Linked DNA regions of Homo sapiens: region 2 is linked to region 1. The links come from fine-mapping of genetic effects on gene expression. A gene starts in region 1. The other region holds a variant in brackets. All regions are shown on one strand. Distances are from middle to middle.

Region 1 (9,502 bases):
GCCCTTAAAGCCAGGGGGTGTCTACTGCCCCTTTGCCCTCTCTTCCCTTCCTACTAACTCAGTGTAGACATGATGGCCAGAGCTGGAACGGCCACCCTGAATCCTGAAATGGAAGTCATGTGTTCAGGACGGCAGGGACCCCTCCTAAACTGCTAACTCTGACCTGGGTTGTTACATGAGAGAGCACTAGCTGTTCAAGCTCTGTTATGCAGCTGAGACTGCAGCCTCACACACGCAGGCATCATGAGGACCTACTCTGTGCTGAGCCCTGGGGCTACGAGGATGGGCTGGGTAGAGTCCCTGTCCTAAAGGAAGAAGCTCACCATGTGGCACAAAGAGAGATACAGGAGAGACGGTCACCCTCGAATAAGCAGATCTATGTTGAGTCAGAGGAGACACCAAGTGCTAAGGAGGCACAGGCAGCATCTCCCCTGTCTTGGGGCCCCCAGAAGAGCCCTGGCTCACGGTGGATGCCTGGCACAACAAGTTGGCTGTGGAAGACTCCGCAGAGGTGACCCTCCCCAGAACCCTCCACGTACCTCTTCGTTGTCATAGAGTGTGACCATGCGCACGTGAGGCTCTGTGGCCAGGGAGCCAGGGCCTGCACAGGAATCTATCAAGGCCTGGTTCAGGGAAGGAAATGAGAGCATCATCTCCAACCTGCTTCTGCTGGAACTCAGCCCACCAGCACCTTGGGTGTGCACGCTCCCCCATCCACCAGCACCTTGGGTGTGCACATTCCCCTGTCTGCCTTCCATGGCCATGACTTTTATCAATTAGGGCACTGCCTGGCAGAGGGTGTGGTGGGGACCTTTTTTTTCTTGCCAAATAAATAGCTACATAGGTAGAAACCTTTAAGGTGTGGTGAGGACCTTTTTTTTCTCTTTTTTTCTTTCTTTCTTTTTTTTTTTGGCCAGATCAATAGCTAGGTAGAAACCTTTTCAACTGGGACAGGAGACACCATCCTTTGGGTGTTGTTCTCTACCTTCCCATGCAAAAGGCAGTAGAAGATGTGGAGGACAGAGAGGAAGAGCTGAGAGTCCTGGAAAGCCAAAAGGCTACACACATCACATAAACTGATTGGCCTCAGGGAAAAGACTGAGGTTCAAAGAGGTGACAGACTCCATCAAGGTGACATGACTGGCTGGTTGCCTGCAGAAGTAGATGCAGGTCCCAGGTCCAGCTCTGGTCTCAATTACAGCCCAAAGCCTATCTCCAGCCACAGGATTACAGGGAAGGAAAGGCAGAAAAAGGCAGAGGGAGATCAAGGGCAAGAGGAGAGAAAGAAAGGGAACTGACTAGGGTGGAGAGAAGGTGGGGAATATCAAGGTGACTAGGAAGAGAGGCTACCTGACTGAGATCCCAAGAAACAGGGAGAAGGCTGGGGTCTTAAGCCTGGGGAGTGGCGTAGGAAGCAGAAGGAGGTGGATGATACTGCCTTGTGGATGATAAAGCCTTTCCCTGAGGCAGAGGTTGTTAACTTCAGGAAAAGCAGCAGGAGCAAGGCTAGGACAAGAGACCATGGTGCCTGAAACAACTTCTCCTCCTTCTTCTTGCCTCAACACCCTGATAGTGCAAGGGCAGAGACCAAAGGTGGCGATGCTGAGGCTGCAACATTTAGGGCCCCCTCCTGGTCCATCCAGCACCAGCAGACTGAGCGGGTAGACAATGGCCCTCTCTCACAACCTGCTGGGGCTTTAGGCAGCTCCCCCGACCCCAAACATACCACCTCTGCTGGTGGTTATGTGCTGCCTGGGGCGCCCCGGCTCCTCACCTGCAGGGCACAGAAGCAGCTGTGCAGATTGTCCAGCCGAGGAGCAAAGATGAACTCATCATAGGCACCACCCAAGACCTAGAGAGGTAAGACAGTCAGCCCGACCTTCAACCCTCCACCCCCACTCACCTTTCTTTTGCTCCCAAGGGTCTCCTTGGTTTCTTGCGCAACCTCTCCCTGACCCCTGGCTTAGGGCACTATTTTGTTTTTTCTTTTTTTTGAGATGAAGGTTCGCTCTTGTCGCCCAGTCTGAAGTGCAATGGCTCGATCTCGGCTCACTGCAACTTCCGCCTCCCGGGTTCAAAGGATTCTCGTGCCTCAGCCTCCTGAGTAGCTGGGATTACAGGCATGCACCACCAGGCCCAGCTAATTTTTGTATTTTTATTAGAGACAGGGTTTCACCATGGTGGTCAGGCTAGTCTCGAACTCCTGACCTCATGTGATTCCCCCCGCCTCAGCCTCCCAAAGTGCTGGGATTCCTTGCTAGGCAGGACCAAGCAGAGATTGGAGAAGGGGGCTGGGTTGGTGCTGAGGAACAAAAGGGTGGAGGCCAATAGCTCTTGACCTCTTCCTGTGGGTCAAGAAAAGGAAGGGCTGAATTGTCATCAAAAAGGCCAAAGAAGTAAACAGAGGAAACCAGCCAAAAAACAGAAACTTAGTACGTGTTCAAGCAGGACACAGCATCCAAAGATTTAGCAATCTCTGACCATCAGCAACCGGGAGACAGAGAACAGATGGCCACATCCAGGCCTCTTTCCCTAAGCAGTTCAGTGTCAGTGTGGGTCAAAGCAGACAGGGCCCACCTGTAGAAGAAACTCTTTGGGAATCTGTAAAAAGGGCCAATTCCCAGATAGTCCTAGTGGGCAGGTCTGGGGTAGGGAACTTGTCTTTTTGAGAACCACCGCCCTAGAAGCAGTGGGGGATGTGTCTACTGGGAAAAACGGGGATGAGAGTTACTGAGGGCTTGGTGGAGGTGATGGGTGCTTCAGCAGGACGGGCTAGGGGTGGCCAGGATCCTGGAGGCCCTTCACCCACAGGTTCCTACAGCCAGTCCTCACCGCAGGCTGGGTGTCTGCAAGGCAGAGCTCCATCTCCACTATGTCCTTGGGGCTCAGCCCCAGATGGGCACAGAGCAGGGACATGAGGACCGAATGGTGCCGCTCATCCTGAAGAGCAGAAAGATGCTGGGAAGAGTCCATTCCTCCTCTCCTCCCCACTTCTCAGGGGACTCTGCCGCCCTCCCCATGATCAGGAGACTCTCTTACCACAGCATTGAGAGGCCCTGGCTCAGGAGTCCCCTTCTCCAGCTCCTCCTGGATGGCTGTGGCAAGAATGGGGACTCTGTGGGGAGACGTGGGTTGTGGGGGGATTGCGAGGAGGGCACAGCTGAGTGCGGCATCCATAAGTTCAGGTGCCTCCTGATGGGCAACTGCCTCTGCCCTTCAATTCCCAGCCCACTCCCCAAATCACAAGGCTGTGAGGACCCTTAGAAATTAACTGGGTCCCAAGAGTAAAATGTGACCTAATGGCTACCATTAGGTAATAATCACCTGGTACCATTCTCCATCCCTCCCAGCCACCGCAGCCCTGCCCCAGTCTCACAGATGCATCTCTGTGTTGGGCCCAAAGTTCTCGTTGATATTTCGCTGCAGATGGATGGCCAGGTGTGGGATGCGAAGAATGGGCCGCTCCACGTGCACCAGCTGCTGCTCCAGCCGACCTGAGGTAGGGCACTGCAGCCAGCCAGGCCAGGTCAGCCCAGGGTGCCTCCTACCCCAGTGGTCAGTCTTTACTTCACTCAGACTAAGCAGGGTGGTCCTCTGACCAGACTGCCCCCACCCCTCTTCCCCACGGGTACCCTGAGGAGTGTGGCAGTCAGTCTTCTGAGGAGGCTCCGCCATCCCCAACCTCGGTTCCCACCTTGACAATGACGCGTCCAGCCAGAGTCAGGTCACGGTCAAACCAGGTGCTCCAGATCCCACCACCATAGGTCTCCACACCGACTTGCTGGAAGCCCACCTGGCTGCGGCGAGACCGACGTTTCACCTGAGTGTAAAGATGGAGAAGTCAGAGAAGGCTTCATGACGATATGTGGAGATGAGACTTTGGCTACTCATAAGTAACAGACAGCGAATATTAGTGTCACATGAAAGGCTCAAGGTGTGAAGGAAGGGGCCAACAAGTTTACCTTCTCCCTTACTCCAGGGGATAGAGGCCCCAGTTTGTACCTCCTAGTTCTCTTTTGCCCTGTACTCCCTCTGACATCTCCTCCCACCCCAACACCGTCCGAGTTCCTTACCCGGAGGCAGGGGCTGTCCGTGTGGGCCCCGATGAGGCTGAAGCCATTGCCAGGAACGTACTGGCCCCCTACAGCAAAAGCTATGATGGTGGAGGAGTTCCTGGTCATGAAGTACTGAGGAGAAGGGGAGGAAAGACAGGGGTGTGAGTTGCATTACTCAGCTGGCACACAGGGCTTGGAGACCAGCCTAGGGACCTGCCTTTCCACCCCCACCCCACCCCCAGTACCTTGCTCTCGGGCTTAATATTCCATTTCTCAGTCTCCTTGAGTTCACTGAAGCCAGCCTGGAGAAGGCGGTTGCGGCATTCAGCCACAGCTGTGGGAAAAGCACCCTCTCACAGCGATGGAAGCTGGTGAAGGGCGCATCAGCCTCCACCCTCCTCCCTTGCCCTGGCCACCGCTTACCATGGAAAGGAGAGGGACTCCGGTTCACGAACTTGAGGAGTTCCTTAGCCGCAGTCTGCACCGCCTCTTTGCGGGCCTTACCGTTCATGGCCACCTAGGGGAGGGGGATGCTCAGACTTTTACAAGGTCTGGGACCCCTGACCTTTCACCCAGGTTCCGAGGATTCTCCCATCCCCACCCCCAGAAGTGACCACTCTAAGGCACAGACCTCTGCTTCCGCCCGTCCCCACCGAGAGACCCAAACCCAGGGCTGAAACTCCGTTGAAAGCTTCAGCCCGCCGGCCCAGGATCATGAGCCAGGCCCGCCCCTTAATCCGAACTTTAGCCCGACTCCCTAAGTCCCGCCCCCATGTCCCTGCCCAGCTAGGAAATCCTGTTCTGCTCCCAAACTCCGGGATCCCAAGCGGGCCCCATACTCTGAGGCGGCCTGCATCACGTGCGCGTACCCAGCCCGGAGCCAAAGCCCTGTACCCCAAGGAGCACCCTGACTCCTCTCTCGCACCCACCTAGTCTCTCGCAGGACTCCCCCTTCCAGTCCCGGGAAAGTCGTCAGGTCACCCTCCGCGGGGCTTTCGGTTTCGCTTTGGGTCAGGCGGCCCCACTGCAGCACCGCGCTAAGCTTGGGCCCCGGAGGGCGCCGGACCCGGTCTGGGATCGAAATTCAAGTGGGGCCGTCGGGAGCCACTTACCTGCATGGCCCCGCGCGTGGGGCTGTGTCCGCTCATCTGGCCTCCGGGCTCGGCCCGCCCCCACCGCGCCGCCTGCCCCGCCCCTCACTAGCTTTGCAGGTCCCCCGCGTGCCCCTTCAGGCCGCGCCGCACTCGTAGGCCTTCATCACGCTTCCCCGGCCGCGCCGCCCCGCCCCATGTTTGGCCTCCCCGCCCACCTCTCCCCGCCCCTCGGCATCCGCCCCGCCCACCTCGGTCAGCCCCGCCCCTCGGCGGGCTTACCCTGTCCGCTCCGCCCCTCGCTGGGCACCACCACCCGCCTTGCCCCGCCCTTGCCCCGCCCCTAGCTTGGCCGCACCGCCCGCCCCGCCCCGCCCCTCGCCAGGAAGCACCGCCCGCCCTGCCCCTCGCAGGGCTGCACCGCCCGCCCCGCCCCTCGTCAAGCTTCCTCGTCCGCCCCGCCTCTCGCCAGGCTGCACCGCCCTCCCCGCTTTGTCCCGCCCCTCACCAGGTTTCCCCCATCCGCTCCGGCCCTCGCTGTACCCCACTACTCGCCCTGCCCCCGCCCTTGCTCCGCCCCGCCCTTCGTCAGGCCTCCTTGCGCTCCCCGCCCCTTGTCAGGCCGTGCCGCCCACCCCGCCCCGCTCCTCGCCAGGCTGCTCCACCCGCCCCGCCGCTCGTCACGCTTCCTCGTCCGCCCCGCCCCTCGCTAGGCTGCACCGCCCGCCCCGCTTCCGCCCCATCCCTCTCCAGGCCGCGCCTCCGCCTCCGGCCCGCCCTCGTCTCCGCCCCTGCGGGGGCTGCTCGTTAGGCCCCGCCCTGCACCCCCGTCACCCACGCCGCGCGACCCGCAGCCGCCGCCAGGGCCCTCTGCTGCCGCGGAGGTGCTAGGACAGCCGCGGACGGCCCGCCTCCCCGTGCCCCGGGCCTCGAGGCCAATAAAAAGCTCGCCCCTCCAGCTCACCGGGTCCGACGGGTACGGTACAAAGTGCTGTCTCTCGCCACAGCCACCTTTGTGACAATAAAAGCAATAAGGCTAATGTCCATGGGGCGCTCACGGTGAGCTTTAGCTTTATGATAAAGATTGGCCTGTTACCTCGTTTAATCTTCACAACTGCCCCATCAACTATGTACTCTTACTGTCCCCAGTTTATGCATGAACAGAGAAAGCTGAGATACGGAGACTAGTGATCCGTCGAGGTAATAAACGGCACAGGTGGGGTTTGAACTCCATCAGTTTGATTGCAGAGGCCTGGAACAACCCTACAGCCTTCTCTCAGATCTTTTCTGGACCTTTTTCTATGCGCTTTGGTAAGTGTTATGTTACACGGGAGGTCCACAAGGGACACAGAAGTTGACTTGCCCAAGATCACATAGCTGTTTGGGTGGATCTGGGATTTGACTCTGATATCTGTGCCCTTTCCATTTGTTAAAAACAACAGAAAAACAAATTCCACATTATTGGCAGTTCCAGTATTCCCATGTCAGGAGTAGTGAGTAGCACGTTTAAACCCCATGCACCTTCCTAGCTGCAGGAACTGATCAGGACTCTTGGTGGCCTCTAGATCCAAAACAGGGCCCAGCTACCAGGGGTTCAAACAAAATTCCAGAGATCACAGGTTTATGGAGCAACCTGCCGTTTATATACCTGGGGTGGGGAGTGACAGGGTGGGATGGGGAGAGGCTGGAAAGGTCCTGCAGCCCTCACTTCAAACTAGTAGATATGGCAGGGGAGTTTTCAAGAATTCACCCACTAGGTGCTGGCTTAAATTCATGGCATTCCCTAACCGTTTGTTGAAATACCATTATGGGCCTGGCGCAGTGGCTCACGCCTGTAATCCCAGCACTTTGGGAGGCCGAGGCGGGTAGATCACTTGAGGTCAGGAGTTCGTGACCAGTCTGACCAACATGGTGAAACCCCGTCTCTACAAAAAATACAAAAATTAGCCGGGTGTAGTGGCACGTGCCTGTAATCCCAGCAGCTACTTGGGAGGCTGAGGCAAGAGAATCGCTTGAACCCGGGAGGTGGAGGTTGCAGTGAGCTGAGATCGTGCCACTGCACTCCAGCCTGGGCGACAGAGTGAGATTCTGTCTCAATAAATAAATAAATAAAATTATGTATAAAGCTCAATGCTGAGCAGGACATGGAGAGAGCATTCTTGTCCTCTACCTCCTGGGGAGGGGACACATTCAAGGAGGACAGTGAAAGGGCCGAAACAAGGCTACAATGTATAAGGGAAGGAGACAACCTGAATAAGGAACCACCTTTAATGTTCTTTCTGATCACAGAAAAGAGTACATGCTTGAGTAAGAGATTCAAACATCACCAAAATGCATAACTTAGAAAGTGAGCCGGGAGTGGTGGCTCACGCCTGTCATCCCAGCATTTTGGGAGGGAAATACAGAAGTGTTCCTATTCAAATCAGAAGTGAGACATTGATGAGCTATTACTGCTGCTAGACAATGTGGAGCTGTAGTCAGAGCCAGTACCACAAAACAAAATTAACAATTCTATATGTGCAAAAGTAAAATTGGTCATTATTTATAGATTATATGATTATCTAGAATCCCCAAGAAAATAAACGATCAAGCTATTATTAGAACTGGTAGGAAGGGTAGCCTAATTTAAAAAACACTGACTTTCTTGTACAATAATCACCTAGAAAATATAAAAGTAAAAAGGTTCTTATTGACCATTTTTGGTTTGGGTAAAAAAGAAAAAAGTAAAAGGGCTATATTTACAAGAGCAAGAAATATTGTTAAATTTCTAGTCATGAACATATGAGACACCTAATCTCACTTTAAACAGGAAAATGCAAGTTAAAAATGAGATAACAGTTGGGCGTGGTGGCTCATGCCTGTAATCCCAGCACTTTGGGAGGCAAAGGCGGGTGGATCACGAGGTCAGGAGTTTGAGACTAGCCTGGCTAAAAATACAAAAAATTAGCTGGACATGGTGGTGTGCACTTGTAATCCCAGCTACTCAGGAGACTGAGGCAGGAGAACTGCTTGAACCCGGGAGGCAGAGGTTGCAGTGAGCCGAGATCGTGCCATTGCACTCCAGCCCAGGCAACAAGTGCGAGACTCCAACTCAAAAAAAAAATTAATAAATAATAAAAATGAGATACTTTTTCTTTTTATTGAGCAGATTAACAAAAATGGAAAAGATGGGTAATATCAAGTGTTGGAGAAGGCTTGGGGTAATGCAAGCATTTTCTGGAGGCTAAAGCAACTCCATCTGGGAAGCTAATCTGCCATGTTGACTTTTCAACAACCTGTTCCAGGAATGACTCTAAGTTTTCTACTTTACCTACTATTACCATAAATCCTGCGCTTAGACAGATTCACATAGCATTCATGACTTTGCCTGAGGGGTCAACTTCAATTGTTTGACACATTGTTTCCCTATGGTATGTAAGCCCTGGGTTTGCAGGGTAATCCACCATTTCATCTCTGAAACTATGGCCTCTATTCATAAGTCCCTATGAAATGTTTCTTTCTGAGAGACTGTATATGTCAGCCTCTTTCGTCGGCTTTTCAGCTTCCCTGAACTTTGGGGGTATGTTTGCACAGACCTTTATACCCAAATTTCTGTGGTGTAAATGTTCCCCGTGGCCGATTTCAAGCTGTCGAGATGATGTCACTGAAGGGAGTTGGGAAGAGCTGTGCGGAAGCATGCCATTATGTAGATTTCCACCATGCAGACACAATGGATAGAAATAACATCAACAGCATAGATTTAAGAAGGCAGTAAAATGTTTGGAAAGGTGATGGATTTTTGGTTTTCATTATCTGTAATATAATTTATTTAATTGTAAGTGTATATAATTTAGTTTTTTTTAATGATTGCTGTGTTTAACAACAAGCTCACCAAATTCCTGGAAATTTGACAATCAGTTCTCATGAGCTTGTCCAAGTTGGCCCCAGCACACTATTCCACCCGTACTGTACATCTTTGCTACTAAATGTGTGATCTGTTGACCAGCAATGTCAATAACATCTGGGAGCTTTTTAGAAATGCAGAACCTCAGGGCTTACCCTAGAGTTATAGAATCAGCATCTGCATGTTAACAAGATTCCTAGATGATTTGAATGCTTGAGACACAGTATTTTAAAGTGCTGTGTAGCAGTTCATAAAAAAAAAAAAAAGGTCAGTCTTTAGGAATTGTTACAGAAAAGAATTCCAAATATACTGTTGAGTGAAAAAAAAAAGCAATTTCTAGAATGTAAGGTGAGGGCCTTTAGATAAAACTCACACAATGAGCTAAATTTATATTTCTAGATGTTATATAAATACATATGTAAATGGATAGAAACAGGTTTGGAAGGATAATGGTCACCTCTGGGTAAGGGAAT
Region 2 (9,340 bases), 36 kb after region 1:
CCAACTACATCGAGAAGGTGCGCTTCCTGGAGCAGCAGAACGCGGCGCTCGCCGCCGAAGTGAACCGGCTCAAGGGCCGCGAGCCGACGCGAGTGGCCGAGCTCTACGAGGAGGAGCTGCGGGAGCTGCGGCGCCAGGTGGAGGTGCTCACTAACCAGCGCGCGCGCGTCGACGTCGAGCGCGACAACCTGCTCGACGACCTGCAGCGGCTCAAGGCCAAGTGAGGGCCCGGCACCCCAGACTCCTCTTTCTGCGGGCAGGGCACAGGAGGCTAGGCCTGGGGTCTGGGGTCCCGCTGTCAGCACCTGCCTTCTCCCGGGGCCCGGGACCCTCTCCTGCCCCATGTGGAGAAAGGGTCCTCCACCTGTGTGTTTCAAGGGGCCGTGACCTCCAGGTCTCTCCCCCTGCGATCCCATCTTGCACAGGAGTTTTCTTGGGGACATAGATCAGGGGGTGGATATGGGAGAATTTAGGGGACCCGGTGCCCTGTGGACAGCCCCGTTAAAAAGCATTTTAAGATGCTGGGGCGATATTTATGGGGTCAGGTAGTTGATGGGCAGAGGAAGGGCTGCAGGAGGCCCAGAGGGCAGTGTAGCCAGAGGGAGAAGGGAGGCTGATAGGAGACAGGGAAAGCAGGGCAAGGGCCCAGAGTCCAAGCAACAGCTCTCAGCTCAGCTGTGATGAGGCCCTGGGGGAGGTGGGGGGAGGGGGGAGCTTGGCCCTGGGGCCTTGCCGAGACTGTGTCTTTTTACAAGGTGAATGGACAGGCTGGAGAAAAAGGGAGTAGGTGGGGGTCACAGCTCTCAGAGAGCTTGGGAGGACCTGACTGTAGACTTCACCAGGCTCCAAGAACGAAAAGGGCAGCAAGTGTAGCATATTTGTTGGTCCCACTTCTGACAGGCCAAGTGAGCACAGTCACCCTCCTGCCACCAAAGTCATAAATATTAATTGAGCAGCTATATTGGCCAGGCTGGAGCTGGGAACCAGAAACACAGAGGTGGATAAAATAGACACAGTTTCTAACCCCAGGGAGGTCACACAGTCTGGTGGGGACATAGACTTCAAGGGTGTGGCTCCTGGGCAGAGATTGGGCCACTTCCTGTGCCCTCCCTGGGTGGGTGGGGCCTCTCCACTCCCTGTCTCTCCTGCCTCTACCCAGCAGCCAGGCCCTCCCGCTCTGTCCTGGACCCACCCCCTGGTCAGCCCCCGGCCAGTCGTTTCCACTGCCAGCTTTATCACCCGCAACTGTCTGTCTTTCTGTCTGTCCCACCCAGGCTGCAGGAGGAGATTCAGTTGAAGGAAGAAGCAGAGAACAATTTGGCTGCCTTCCGAGCGGTGAGTGCCCTTCTTTTCCCCTTGCATGGCCTCTGGCCTTGCTCTGCCCCACCTGGGTGGCGGTGACCATGTCCTTCTCGCTTGGCCTCTCCCAGGACGTGGATGCAGCTACTCTAGCTCGCATTGACCTGGAGCGCAGAATTGAATCTCTCAACGAGGAGATCGCGTTCCTTAAGAAAGTGCATGAAGAGGTATACCTTGGCCCCTCTTCCTGGGGTCACTGGGCCATGGGGAAAGCAGCCGGAAAGTGGGGTTGGGGTGAGGCTCTGGCTGGGAATAGGGGTGTGAGGGTGCTGTGTGGGCCCTGAGAGGGGACTGAAGCCCAGTCATGCCCTACAGGAGATCCGTGAGTTGCAGGCTCAGCTTCAGGAACAGCAGGTCCAGGTGGAGATGGACATGTCTAAGCCAGACCTCACTGCCGCCCTCAGGGACATCCGGGCTCAGTATGAGACCATCGCGGCTAAGAACATTTCTGAAGCTGAGGAGTGGTACAAGTCGAAGGTGGGTGGCCTCGCCCGGGGACTGGCATCTCCGTCCCCCTGAATCCCAGCTTGGATGTGCTGCCTGTGGTACCATCCATGGGAGGAGAGCCCAGAGGCTTCATGCTCCCTTGCTCATCCCTACCCGTGCCCTGCATCCTTCTCATTTTTGGGCCCCTTTCTCTGCCCTTAGGTGTCAGACCTGACCCAGGCAGCCAACAAGAACAACGACGCCCTGCGCCAGGCCAAGCAGGAGATGATGGAATACCGACACCAGATCCAGTCCTACACCTGCGAGATTGACGCCCTGAAGGGCACTGTGAGTCCCTGCCCACCTGGCCAGGCCCTGCCCCTTCCTGTCTGCAGTTCACACCCTCACTTTGTGACCTTGGGCCCATCATAGATCCTCTCTGGGCCTTCATCTACTTAAATCTACAATAGGGGTAAAACCAGACAAGTGGATTCCAGTTGGATGCTAAGGAATCAGGGGTTCCTGGGCATCTACCTATGTGGGGACTGTGAGGCTGAATGCAATGTTCCTTTGTATCTATTTTATTCTGAGTGTTCACATATAGACTTAATTTGAGTTCAGGGTTCAACATGGCCTGGACCTGACCATCTGGAGTTGCCTGCCAGCCCCAAAGCTTTCTTTGGGCTGCTAGTGTCCTCTTCCCTTCCTTGACCTGGGTTCCCCCTCTCCTGCAGAACGATTCCCTGATGAGGCAGATGCGGGAATTGGAGGACCGATTTGCCAGTGAGGCCAGTGGCTACCAGGACAACATTGCGCGCCTGGAGGAGGAAATCCGGCACCTCAAGGATGAGATGGCCCGCCATCTGCGCGAGTACCAGGACCTGCTCAACGTGAAGATGGCCCTGGATGTGGAGATTGCCACCTACCGGAAGCTGCTGGAGGGAGAGGAGAGCCGGTGAGGGGCCAGGCAGGAGCCCGAGTGGGAGGTGCGGGGTGCTGGGTGGTCCATTTCTGTCCCCAGGAGGCTCGAGATTACTGATTACCTCAACAAGACCTGGAAACAATTTTTTTTTTTTTTGAGATGGAGTTTCGCTCTTGTCGCCCAGTCTGGAGTGCAATGGCACCATCTTGGCTCACTGCAACCTCCGCCTCCTGGGTTCAAGCAATTCTCCTGCCTCAGCTTCCCGAGCAGCTGGGATTACAGGCGCCTACCACCACGCCTGGCTAATTTTTGTATTTTTAGTAGAGACGGGGTTTCACTATGTTGGGCAGCTGGTCTCGAACTCCTGACCTCAGGTGATCTGCCTACCTCAGCCTCCCAAAGTACTGGGATTACAGGCGTGAGCCACCGCACCCGGCGTGGAAACAATTTTATACAAGAGGCCACTGCTCTATTAATTGCAGAGAATTAACCAAGGCCACCTGGGTAAAAAGCAATTTAATTAACAGCATTTATAAAAAGAGAAATAT[A/C]AGTATTCCCTTATCCACCTTCAGAATTAAGAACCAGCAGCAAAAAAAACCATATTCAGCAACCAATAATAAAATATTACTGCCAGTCAAGGGAGAGATGAAAGCAGAATGGGGAGTGATGAGGAGGGAAACGGAGGGAGCAGATAGAGGCAAATAGAGAGAGGGAGGGAGAGAAGCCTTGCACAGGGATAGGCTAAGAGAAGGTAAAGAGATGCATACAGAAGGCATGAGTTTGCACACACATGCACACATGTCAGCATATGCACATGTTCGGAGGAAAAGACACAGACGTCATGCTCAGAGCAACCCACCTCTAGACACAGAAAACAACATACAACTGGAAAGGGACACCAGGGAACCTTGTGGGATAACAGAAATGTTCTATATCTTTTTTTTTTTTTTTTTTTGAGACAGAGTCTTGCTCTGTCACCCAGGCTGGAGTGCAGTGGTGTGATCTCAGCTCACTGCAACCTCTGCCTCCCAGGCTCAAGCGGTTCTCCTGTCTCAGCCTCCCTAGTAGCTGGGATTACAGGCGTGTGCCAACACACTCAGCTGATTTTTTGTATTTTTAGTAGAGATGAGGTTTCACCATGTTGGTCAGGCTGGACTCTAACTCCTGACCTCAAGTAATTCGCCTGCCTCAGCCTCCCAAAGTGCTGGGATTATAGGCATGAGCCACTGTGCCTGGCCTAGAAATGTTCTATATCTTGATTTGGACTGGTAGTTACACAGACGTGGACATTGATCAAAACTCATTGAATTGTACATTAAAGATCTGTGCATTTCACTGTATGTAAATTTAACCTCAATTTAAAACAGATCAGTTACTCCAAAAACTGGTACCCCTTGATACTCATAAAAATAATATCTGAAATTTTTAAAAAGGAGCAGACATGTTTAGATACAGGTACAAACATAAAGAGAAACTTCAGATTTTGTAAAATCACGTCTACATATGATGGCCTTTGAAGGTAGCTAAAGGCATGTTGCATTTTCCCAGCATTAGGCCTAAATAGTAAGCTCTCAGAACTGGCCTGGCTGGAGGGTGGGCATGAGCAATGGATATCACCCACAGCTGCTACTAGTACCAACTTCAGTGCCAGGAGCAAGAAGGAAATCCTGGTGCTCTGGAGGGCGCGGTGGGGTTGCACATCCTAGTGTCGTGCCAGCAGTTCACAGTTGAAATAATGATCCTTCCAGAAGAGACTATTCCTGGGACAGCTCTAGCTGGCCTTCGACCCCATTCCTTGAGCAGTATGGGTGGTGGGAGTGCTGGGGTCCGTGGGACTGGGACAGCTGAGGATGGTGTTTAGAAAGGACCAGGGTGAGCCTTGATGGGCGGTCTCAGGGAAAGATGGGAGGGTTCTTTTTTTTTTTTTTTTGAGACAGGGTCTTGTTCTGTCCCCCAGGCTGGAGTGCAGTGGTGCAATCTCCGCTCACTGCAAGCTCCACCTCCTGGGTTCGCACCATTCTCCTGCCTCACCCTCCTGAGTATCTGGAACTACAGGTGCCCGCCACCATGCCCGGCTAATTTTTTGTATTTTTAGTAGAGACGGGGTTTCACTGTGTTAGCCAGGATGGTCTCGATCTCCTGACCTGGTGATCCGCCCGCCTCGGCCTTTCAAAGTGCTGGGATTACAGCTGGGCCCGGCCGATGGGAGGGTTCTTAACTCTTAGGAGGTTTTGTCTCTTCCCTTTTAGGATCAATCTCCCCATCCAGACCTACTCTGCCCTCAACTTCCGAGGTGAGTGTCTGCTGGCAGGCGGAGGCTGGAGTTGCAGGGGCCAGGAGTCCAGCATGGGCACTGCCCAAGGCCAGCCAGGAGGGAGGATGGGACCCTGGGGCTAGGGACAGACCTGGAGTCTGGGGAAGAAAAAGGGGACCACTGCGGGTAGGTGGGGGAGTTTAGGTAGAGGTGGATGAGGCAACTTATGACAGAGAGAGCTTTTTATGTGATTATATTGTATTGTATTTACCATGTCCCCTGCACCTTCTTGGAGTATTGGGCCTCAGGAAGCAGCCTCTGTTCTGAATCCCAAACTCTGAAAGCAGGAGTGTCCTTGGGGACCTGGCTTCAGGAGCATCTCATACCACCTGCCCTCTAAGACACCCACAGCCCATTGTCTGTTTGGCACATTGCCAAGCCCCACCTTGGCTGCTTGTCGAACACCTCCAGTTTGCTGGAGCAAGATGTTGGATGCACGTTTGGAAAAAAATGCCAAATCTTAGCAAAGCCAAACAATGAAAAGAACGAGCTCTTAGGGCACTCTGCCATTTTGACATTAGTAATACGCAGATCGGGTGGCTTTCCAACCCCAGAGAGCAGAGAAACACACGATAATGATGCATTAGGAAAGCAAGTCGGAGTCCTTGGCAGCTTCTCCTTTCCTAGATCAAACCTTTTCTATCTTCGATGTACATTTCCATCAGGAAAAAAAACACGCTGCGCTCCAGCGAGTCACAACATTCATCACAGGCTGGTTGCTAGCTAAGGAAATTCGTAAGCACCAAACTCATAATACCAAGGACCTCCATTTGACCTTTCCTACACAACTCAGAGCCTCTCTTTTCAGTTAGTTGTTTATACAGACACCAAGTATGAGTCTTGCATTTAAAACTTCATAGTACAAAAAACTCCACCCACATTGCACAGTGCTTTTCCAAATCAATAGCTTTGTGGCCATGATAAGGTTGGTACCACTTCACTCCGTGTCCTCAGTGAGGAAACTGAGGCACAGAATGGCAAGTGACTGAGCATCAGCACAATGAGTCAGTGCCTTATTCCTGCTCTGTCTCACTTTAAGACATCAAGTTGCTCATCTGAATTTTTTTTTTCTTTTGAAACGGAGTCTCGCTCTGTCGCCCAGGCTGGAGTGCAGTGGTGCAATCTCGGCTCACCGCAACCTCCGCCTCCCAGGTTCAAGCAATTCTCCTGCCTCAGCCTCCTGAGTAGCTGGGATTACAGGCATGTGCCACCACGCCCCCCTAATTTTTGTATTTTTAGTAGAGACGGGGTTTCACCATGTTGGTCAGGGTGGTCTGGAACTCCTGGCCTCATGATCCACCTGCCTCGGTCTCCCAAACTACTGGGATTACAGATGTGAGCCACCGCACCTGGCCCTGAAATCTTAAAGGGAGATAGGTACTGTAAGGTCCTCTAAAGAGTGTCTTGAGACTGGGCTTTGGGGTTCTATCTTGAAGAAGGGGAGTCCCAGGAGACAAATGTGTGCAGGGCTCTCCTGGGGCCTGGGGGTGGAGAGGAACTAGGAGGGATGGGGAATGTCAGTGCTGTGCAGCCTGGGCCTCAGGTGTCCCCTACCCTCCTGCACCATCCTGCACATGGAGCAAATCTGTTGGCTCCTGAGACCATCTAAACTATGGGACAGGCGCTGGGGACTGCAGAACCACCTGCTGGGTGCTGGGCTGAAGGAAAGGTGTTAAAGTCTTGAAGAAGTAACAAGCCTGTCTTGAGGGGGGTTGGGGTCTGCTAGGGCTCTGCCCAATGTGGCCCCAGATGGACTCCCAGCCCCTGGTATAGCCCAGCCTGGACTTGGTCAGGCTGAGTGTGCGATGGACCCTGTTACAGAAACCAGCCCTGAGCAAAGGGGTTCTGAGGTCCATACCAAGAAGACGGTGATGATCAAGACCATCGAGACACGGGATGGGGAGGTAAGTGGTCTGTCTGGGCTCCTTACCCTTGGTGGGGGCTATGGATGTGTCTGGGGGGACTGTCTTCCACCCAGCTGTGCTGGTCTAGGTCCCTGGCTAGTGGGGCAAGAGAGATCCTGCGGCCCTGGGGTGGGGATGGCTCAGGGCTGAGGCTCCATTCTCTGGCTAGCACATGGTTGGACTGGGCTTCTCTTCCTCCCCAGGTCGTCAGTGAGGCCACACAGCAGCAGCATGAAGTGCTCTAAAGACAGAGACCCTCTGCCACCAGAGACCGTCCTCACCCCTGTCCTCACTGCTCCCTGAAGCCAGCCTTCTTCCATCCCAGGACACCACACCCAGCCTCAGTCCTCCCCTCACAGCCTCTGACCCCTCCTCACTGGCCATCCCTCGTGGTCCCCAACAGCGACATAGCCCATCCCTGCCTGGTCACAGGGCATGCCCCGGCCACCTCTGCGGACCCCAGCTGTGAGCCTTGGCTGTTGGCAGTGAGTGAGCCTGGCTCTTGTGCTGGATGGAGCCCAGGCGGGAGCGGTGGCCCTGTCCCTCCCACCTCTGTGACCTCAGGCACTAGCCTTTGGCTCTGGAGACAGCCCCAGAGCAGGGTGTTGGGATACTGCAGGGCCAGGACTGAGCCCCGCAGACCTCCCCAGCCCCTAGCCCAGGAGAGAGAAAGCCAGGCAGGTAGCCAGGGGGACTAGCCCCTGTGGAGACTGGGGGGCTTGAAATTGTCCCCGTGGTCTCTTACTTTCCTTTCCCCAGCCCAGGGTGGACTTAGAAAGCAGGGGCTACAAGAGGGAATCCCCGAAGGTGCTGGAGGTGGGAGCAGGAGATTGAGAAGGAGAGAAAGTGGGTGAGATGCTGGAGAAGAGAGGAGAGGAGAGAGGCAGAGAGCGGTCTCAGGCTGGTGGGAGGGGCGCCCACCTCCCCACGCCCTCCCCTCCCCTGCTGCAGGGGCTCTGGAGAGAAACAATAAAGAGATTCACACACAAGCCAAGCTGGCCCCTGTTGTCTTGACTGCCAGGTCTCCTGTGGGGCCCCTGGGGCCCTGTGATACAACCTGTCACCCTGAGATGGACTATACTGACCTTCTACCCAGCCAGACTTTCCCCAGGGCCTCGCGCCCACTTCTGTTCCCAGAGCCACCTGGCCTTGATGTCTGTATGCAGTGTATGGGGCAGGGAGGGCTGGACAGGGCTTTTGTTGGGGAACCACAAATACCTCTCGTTAGGCCCCAGTTCCAGGACTGCACCCCTTGTGCTCTCTACTACACCTTCAGGTCAGCCAGGCTGGGGGACACCACCTGCTATTCCTTTTGAAGGATGTAGCTGCTCCCCACTGACTGGCTCTGAAGTAGGGCTCCCCCAGTCCCTTCTTCAAAGATGCCAACAGCCCCTTTTTTTTCTCTCTCTCTTTTTTTCTTTTTGAGATGGAGTCTTGCTGTGTCACCCAGGCTGGAGTGCAGCAGTGTGATCACGGCTTACTGCAGCCTGGACTTCCTGAGCTCAAGCGATCCTCCCACCTCAGCCTCCCAAGTAGCTGGGACCACAGGTTCACACCACCATGCCTGGCTAGCTTTTTATTTTTTGTAGAGACAAGGTCTTTCTGTGTTGCTGAGGCTGGTCTTGAATTTCTGGGCTCAATTGCTCCTCCTGCTACCTCAGCCTCCCAAAGTGTTGGGATTACAGATGTGAGCCAATGGCCTCTTTCTATTAACTCCTTCCAATACTATTTTTATACACAGGAGCCAATTCAGGAAAAATAATGTTTGGAAAAATGGAAAGATCTGTTCTGTGCTTCGATAAGAAGGTTCAATACTCTGAAGAGAAGTCAATTCATTTTCCATTCATCTATAATTTCAATGCCATGCAATCTCAATTAAAATACCAAATAAAAATTTTAAGAGAATTGGAGAAGATGGGAGGGGAGTGTAAGACGTATGAAAAAAATTAGGAGGCTGGGCACAGTGACTCCACCTGTAATCCCAGCACTTTTGGAGGCTGAGGTGGGAGGATCTCTTGAGCCCAGGAGTTTGAGACCAGCTTGGGCAATGTAACGAGACCCTGACTCTACAAAAAATAAAAAATTAGCCTGGCATGGTGGTATGAGCCTGTAGTTCCAGCTACTTGGGAGGCTGTGGTGGGAGGATAGCTTGAGCCCAGGAGGTCGAGGCTTCAGTGAGCTGAGATTGTACCACTAACTCCAGCCTGGGTGACAGAGTGAGACTCTGTCTCAAAAAAAGAAAAAGGAAAAAAATTAGGAAATCATAGAAAGAACATCAAAATATATTAGAAGGCTATGATAATTAACAGATTTGTTAATGAAGAGGAAATATACAAATATTAATGAACAAAATAGTGTGTTTAGAACAAGACTCACATACAGGAGACATACACATGTTAAAGGAGGCATTTTGAA

Evidence for each region.
Region 2: its variant is fine-mapped to the expression of DNPEP in spleen (GTEx, PIP 0.98).

What each region holds. Positions count from the first base shown.
Region 1 is chr2:219,382,592-219,392,093 of GRCh38, forward strand. It overlaps DNPEP (aspartyl aminopeptidase), which reads right to left and starts at 5,321. Exons shown (of 15, transcript NM_012100.4): 1 at 5,168-5,321; 2 at 4,479-4,572; 3 at 4,301-4,389; 4 at 4,074-4,187; 5 at 3,695-3,820; 6 at 3,377-3,507; 7 at 3,040-3,115; 8 at 2,833-2,940; 9 at 1,775-1,852; 10 at 540-623. The coding sequence starts at 5,203. It overlaps DNPEP-AS1 (DNPEP antisense RNA 1), which reads left to right and starts at 5,979. Exons shown (of 4, transcript NR_183823.1): 1 at 5,979-6,205; 2 at 6,296-6,457. RefSeq lists an enhancer at 4,002-4,848 and silencers at 5,113-5,352, 5,373-5,892, 5,973-6,122.
Region 2 is chr2:219,418,821-219,428,160 of GRCh38, forward strand. It overlaps DES (desmin), which reads left to right. Exons shown (of 9, transcript NM_001927.4): 1 at 1-220; 2 at 1,275-1,335; 3 at 1,431-1,526; 4 at 1,675-1,836; 5 at 2,008-2,133; 6 at 2,520-2,740; 7 at 4,957-5,000; 8 at 6,843-6,925; 9 at 7,129-7,914. The coding sequence ends at 7,170. Among named protein-coding and RNA genes, the nearest start is that of DES, 5.1 kb to the left of the region's middle. The variant A/C (reference allele first, on the strand shown) is at 3,256.